Regions from separate parts of the Homo sapiens genome. Here region 2 is linked to region 1. The links come from fine-mapping of genetic effects on gene expression. A gene starts in region 1. The other region holds a variant in brackets. All regions are shown on one strand. Distances are from middle to middle. Region 1 holds the start of ZG16B (zymogen granule protein 16B). Region 2 has its middle 3.4 kb from the start of PRSS22.

Region 1 (2,904 bases):
CTGGGAGAGAGGCAAAGCTTTGGACGTCCAGATCTGGGATGGCCCAGCACATCCCGGGTCCTCAGCGCCCCCATCCTCCTTCCCGGGATGCAGAGAGTCCAGCACCATCAGACTTTGGGTCCCTGACACAGACTCACTGGTCACCAACCCTGATTCTACCACTTTTGGGCCCTGTGATCTTGAGCTCGTTACCCAGCCTCTCCGGACTCAGTTTCCCCGTCTGCAAAGTGGGTGTGACTTTTGGGAGGAGTCACTGAGATCCTGGTGAGGAGAGCTGCGTGCAGCGCCAGGTCTCCGTGACCCAGAAGGCACCAGCTGCCGTCACTGTGGCCCACATATGAGCTGCCTCTGGCCGAGCCTGGACCTCCCGAGCCTTAGTCACTCCAAGCAGAGCAGCTCACAGGCCGAGGGGCAGGTGACTTCCCACACTCGCCAGCGCTTCCCTGACGGGGCTCATCTTCACCCCTCCCTCACCCTGGTGCTCTCCCAGGATGCACCCCTCCGGCTCGCCCCGCCCACACTCTGTCTCCTCTGCTATTGGGCTTCTCTCCCCTCTCCCAGGACCCCAGAACTTCTAAATGCAGGGCAAAAATCCATCCCAGACCTCCAGCAGAGACACTTCGATATTAAGGAAATGGCCCTGGACTTCTGCCTCTAACACTTCTGCGACTCATATTCAGTCAGTGGTCCACTCTGACCCTTACCTCCTGTCTTCTTTGACAGTAATCGGACAGACTTTCCCCTGACTTTCCTATCAGGCATGGGGACAGAGGGGCCATTTTTGGTTGAGTTGAGCTTGGGTTGAAGGGAGAAGGTAGGGAGGACGGTCTGACCGTCTCCGCTCCAGCCAGGAAGCATCAGCGGGAGCCAGGAAGCATCGACAGTAGCCAGGCATGTGTGGCAAAAGTGGCCACGGGTGCTTACCCCCTGCCCTGAGTTCCTGAAACTGTGGGATGGGAGGGGACATGGCGCTGGGCCCATGACCATAGCCCTACTCACCTTTTCACCAGGAGAAGACCTACAGACACCCGCAGCCCTGTGATTTCATGGTCGTAGTCTTCAGTGGTGCTGAAATACTTGCCTCCTCCAGGGCCATACATCTCTGAAGAAAAGAGAGACCCAAAGGGAAGAAAATCCCCATGCGGTGATATGGGGGTGACCTCTGCCAGAACAGGGGACCCCACCCCTCCAGGCAGACAGGATGGTTCTGTGACCAGAGTTAGTCTGGGACAAGGGCCGGGTGAGTCCCTGGCTCTCCTGGAGGGAGGCAGGGGAGATTGAGGGCAGACCCCACTGACTTACTCCCTGCCCAGGTGGGGCCCCCCAGGAGGGCAAGCGTGAGCAGCAGCAGCATGGCCTCTGGCCGGTGCATCCCAGGGCTCTGTGGGAAGAAGAGAGGCCTCCTGACTCCAAAGCAAGGGCCAGTGTGACCTTGCCGGGCCCCACCCATGGAGCCAAGCACCTTACCTCGCCTGTGACTGGGCGTCTGGTTGTGCCGGGCACCCTCCACATCGCCTTTATACTCTCCTGGGCCCCCTGGGCCCCCATCCAGAAGGAAGAAGCGAGGGGCCGCCAGGGGAACAGGAAGGAGCTGGCCGTGGGGCTCTTCCTGGGGGAAGGCCCAGGGCCGGCCTTGGGGAGGCTCCCGGATGTGCAGTATTTGCTGTCTTGGCTCTGCAGCCTACATAAACGAAGCTGAGAACAGTGACAGGCATTTCACAGTTATCTCTGGGATCTCTCCAGTCAGCACTGGCACCGACTTGAATGGCAGAGGTGGGGAGAGGCTGGCTTATCCAGCGCAGCCTGATGGCTTCCACCTGAGGGTGGCGGGTCAAGGGTCCACAGAAGCTCCGTGGGGCCCACTCCTGCCGTGGGCGACCTGGAGTCAGGGCCTCCTTCGGACTCAGGCAGCACCTGGTGCCTGGCAGCCTTCCTGGGACCCAGGCCGAGCTCGACGCGGGCCCTGAGAGAGCCTGAATGGATCACCCAGCCCTTTGTGTCCTGTGCCCTGTGCGGCAGGTGCACCAGGCACTGGCCCTCAAGGCACTGCCCTTAGAGGCTGCCCGGGTCTCTCCTCTGTGCTGTATCTGGGTGGAGCAGGTATGAGCCAGTGTTCAGGGACTCAGAGGCCATGGGAGGGAAGGACACCAAAGGTGCAGTCCATGCCACGATGGGAGGCAGAGGGCCTGGGGAGGGCGACCCCCCAGGCCGGTCCTTCCGAGGTGTCGGCCCTCATCTGGGCGGGAACTGGCGCTTCTCCAGGGCTCGGTCCCCGGGGCCCTGCTGGTTTTCTGTCTCACTCCTTTCCCCCTCAGCCCCTCTTGTCAGGGAGGCCTGTGCAGGCGGATGCCTGTGGGCAGAACGCCATCACCCTCAGACGCCAGCTGAGAAAAGCTCGTGTTCGGAGATGTCTCATCCCAAGGACCCTGAAGGACCCAGGGCACTGGGAAGGAACTGGAGTCTGCAGAAGAGTTGGGGTGTCGGATAAGGATCAGGGGAGAAGAGATAAAGGCCGTCAGATGCCCAAGCGAGGCGGGAACTAGGGGACAGATTGCAGCTCAAGCGCAGTTCCATGCGTGTCCTCAGGACACCTCTTGTGTGTGTTCCAGGGACTGAAGCTCCTCAGGGCCTGTGACCGCTGGGAACAGCCACAGGGCTGTGATCACCAACACAGGACCCTGGAGCCAGACGTGGGTCCAGCCGGGCTTCCTGACGTAGCGGGGCTGGGATCTGCGGGCTCTTGCTTCACCTCTCTGGGCCTCTGTTCTGCGGATAACAACAGAACCTCCCCCTGAGGGTGCTGTGAGGGCCTCCCTGGAGGGGAGGCCCCCAGGGCTGGTTGCCCTGAGCCTTAGACTTTATGCCTTGGGGGAGAGTGTACAACGCTAATTTTTGGAAAGAGCA
Region 2 (2,904 bases), 31 kb before region 1:
AAACAAACAAACAACCAAAAAAATTAGAGGGTACAAGCACATTTTTGTTACCTGGATATACTGTGTGGTGGTGAAGTCTGGGCTTTTAGTGCCTATCACCCAAATCGTGAACACTGGATCCAATAGCAAATTTCTTCTCCTTTGCCCCCTCCCTCCCTCCCACCCTCCCAGTCTCCAATGTCTGTTATTCCACTCTGTGGCCACAGGTGCACATTGCTTTGCTCCCACTTATTTTATTTTATTTTTTTTGAGATGGAGTCTCGCTCTGTCGCCCAGGCTGGAGTGCAGTGGCACGATCTCAGCTCACTGCAAGCTCCGCCTACCAGGTTCACGCCATTCTTTTGCCTCAGCCTCCAAAGTAGCTGGGACTACAGGCGCCCGCCACCACACCCGGCTAATTTTTTGTATTTTTAGTAGAGACAGGGTTTCACCATGTTAGCCAGGATGGTCTCTAGCTCCTCCTGACCTCGTGATCTGCCCGCCTTGGCCTCCCAAAGTGCTGGGATTACAGGCGTGAGCCACTGCGTCCGGCTGCTTTGCTCCCACTTATACATGAGAACATGCTTAAGAGGCTAAGGCAGGTAGATCACCTGAGGTCAGGAGTTCGAGACGAGCCTGACCAATATGGTGAAACCCCGTCTCTACTAAAAATATAAAAAATAGCTGGGCATGGTGGTGTGCACATGTAATTGCAGCTACTCAGGAGGCAGAGGCAGGAGAATCACTTGAACCCGGGAGGCAGAGGTTGCAGTGAGCCCAGATTGCGCCACTGCACTCCAGCCTGGGCAACAGAGCAAGACTCTGCCTCAAAAAAAAAAAAAAAAAAAAAAAAAGGCTGGGCACACTGGCTCATGCCTGTAATCCCAGCCTTTTGGGAGGCCAAGTCTGGCAGATCATGAGGTAAAAAGATTGAGACCATCCTGACAAACATGCTGAAACCCTGCCTCTACTAAAAATACAAAAATTAGCTGGGTGTGGTGGCACGTGCCTGTAGTTCCAGCTATGTGGGAGGCTGAGGCAGGAGAATTGCTTGGGAGGCTGAGGCAGGAGAATTGCTTGAACTCGGGAGGTGGAGGCTGCAGTGAGCCAAGATTGCACCGCTGCACTCCAGCCTGGTGACACAGTGAGACTCCATCTCAGTAAATAAATAAATAAGAACATGCAATCTTTGTCTTTCTGTGTTTGACTTGTTCCGCTTAAGATAATGGCCTCCAGTTCCATCCACATTGCTGCAAAAGACATGGTTTTGTGTTCTTTTTTATGGCTTCGTAGTATCCCACTGTGTATATATTCACCACATTTTCTTTATCCATCATCTGTTGATGGACACTTAGGTTGATTTCATGGCTTTGCTGTTGTGAACAGTGTTGCTGCGATGAACACACGAGTGCAGGTGTCTCTTTGATTAAATGACTTCTTTTCCTTTGGGTGGATGCCCAGTGGTGGGATTGCTGGTTGAATGGTAGTTCTAGTTTTAGTTCTTTGAGAAATCTCTATCCTGTTTTCCATAGAGCTAAATGATGTACTTATTGTTTACAATTCTCTGTTTCATCCGATGTCCATGGCTTTTGGTTTGCTCATTGCTGTATCTTCAGCACTTCGGACAGCGCCGGCATA[C/T]AGGCGGTGCTCTGCAAATGCTTGTTGATTGAGTTAACAAGGACAAGGAGAGTGTCTTATTTCCCTTGACTACTCCAGCACATGGTGGGTGGGCTCCATAGCCTTTGGTGGGACAATGAATGGATAGCCCTGTTCAAAGTAGCTCCCCAGACTCCTGGGCCCACATCTGAGATGCCACCATTGGCGAGTCACTTCTTTTGCCAGTGGCAGCTGCTGTTAACATGGAAATGCCCCAGTGGCCCTGTCAGTCATCACCACTCCAGTGCACATGGATCAGAGGCCCTGAGGCCAGGCTGGCAGGGAGTGGGGGTGTGGGTGGCAGGGGCACACAGCTCATCCAGAGCTTGCACAGGCAGGGATGCTGGCCAGCATGTGGGTCTAGCATTGGCAGGCGCTCAATAAATATTTTGTTGAGTGAATGTTGAATCATGCCAGGGTCTCCACCCCGTGGCCTTTCAGAGACTCCACCCTCTATACCCTGGGAATTGAGGAACTGCTGTCTGGGGCCCTTCCCCAGGACTTGTGCCAGGAAATCTTCACCCAGCTCCTCAGGGCTTCCCCCTGCTCCTACCAGGTCCTTCTCCTCGGGGCTCTCTTCCTGGCCACCCTGTCTCAGGGATAGCGGCATCTTGGGCAGGGCCCATGGCTACCCTTGGGTATCCAGGGCAGTGAGCTGGCTCTTCAGAAAGGCAGAAAAGCTGGAATGGAGAGGAAACCTGGGCGGGAGGCAGAGAGGGAGGCTGGAGTGGTCGGTCCCCAGCCACTTGCAGACTTGCTTCTTCCACACTCATTTATACATTCAACAAACACTCGCTGAGCCCCAGGGTGCAGCAGGCACTGAATATGATCCTGGGGGTCCACAGGGAGCCCCCCTGCCCACACTGTTTCCCCAGCACCCAGCTTCACAGTGGCCCTCTAGGGTCCAAGCCACCGCCTGGTCCCATGGTTCTGTGCCCACCTCCCGGACACCTCCCTGTCATCCGTCATCTGCCTCCCACCCCTAGGAGGTCATGTGCTTCCTGAGCACAGGACCTGCGTCTTATTCATCACATGTGTCCTGGTGCCCACCAGGGCCTGACATACAGCAGGTACTCAATATATGTTTGCTGGGTGAGCTGGAGAGGCCACCCACCTTATTCCAGAAGGCAGTGGGGTGGGGCGCAGGAGGGCCCTGGACGCCCTGGGTGCAGAGCTGAGCGGGGGACAGTGAGTAGGGTTGGGGGAGCCCAGCAGAAATTTCTGCTGCAGTGCTGCTGCTGCTCAGAGACACTGCCCCTCCTTGGCCAC

Evidence for each region.
Region 2: its variant is fine-mapped to the expression of ZG16B in whole blood (INTERVAL, PIP 0.96).

What each region holds. Positions count from the first base shown.
Region 1 is chr16:2,828,892-2,831,795 of GRCh38, reverse strand. It overlaps ZG16B (zymogen granule protein 16B), which reads right to left and starts at 1,493. Exons shown (of 4, transcript NM_145252.3): 1 at 1,468-1,493; 2 at 1,303-1,381; 3 at 1,000-1,102. The coding sequence starts at 1,354.
Region 2 is chr16:2,860,071-2,862,974 of GRCh38, reverse strand. No RefSeq gene overlaps it. Among named protein-coding and RNA genes, the nearest start is that of PRSS22, 3.4 kb to the right of the region's middle. The variant C/T (reference allele first, on the strand shown) is at 1,618.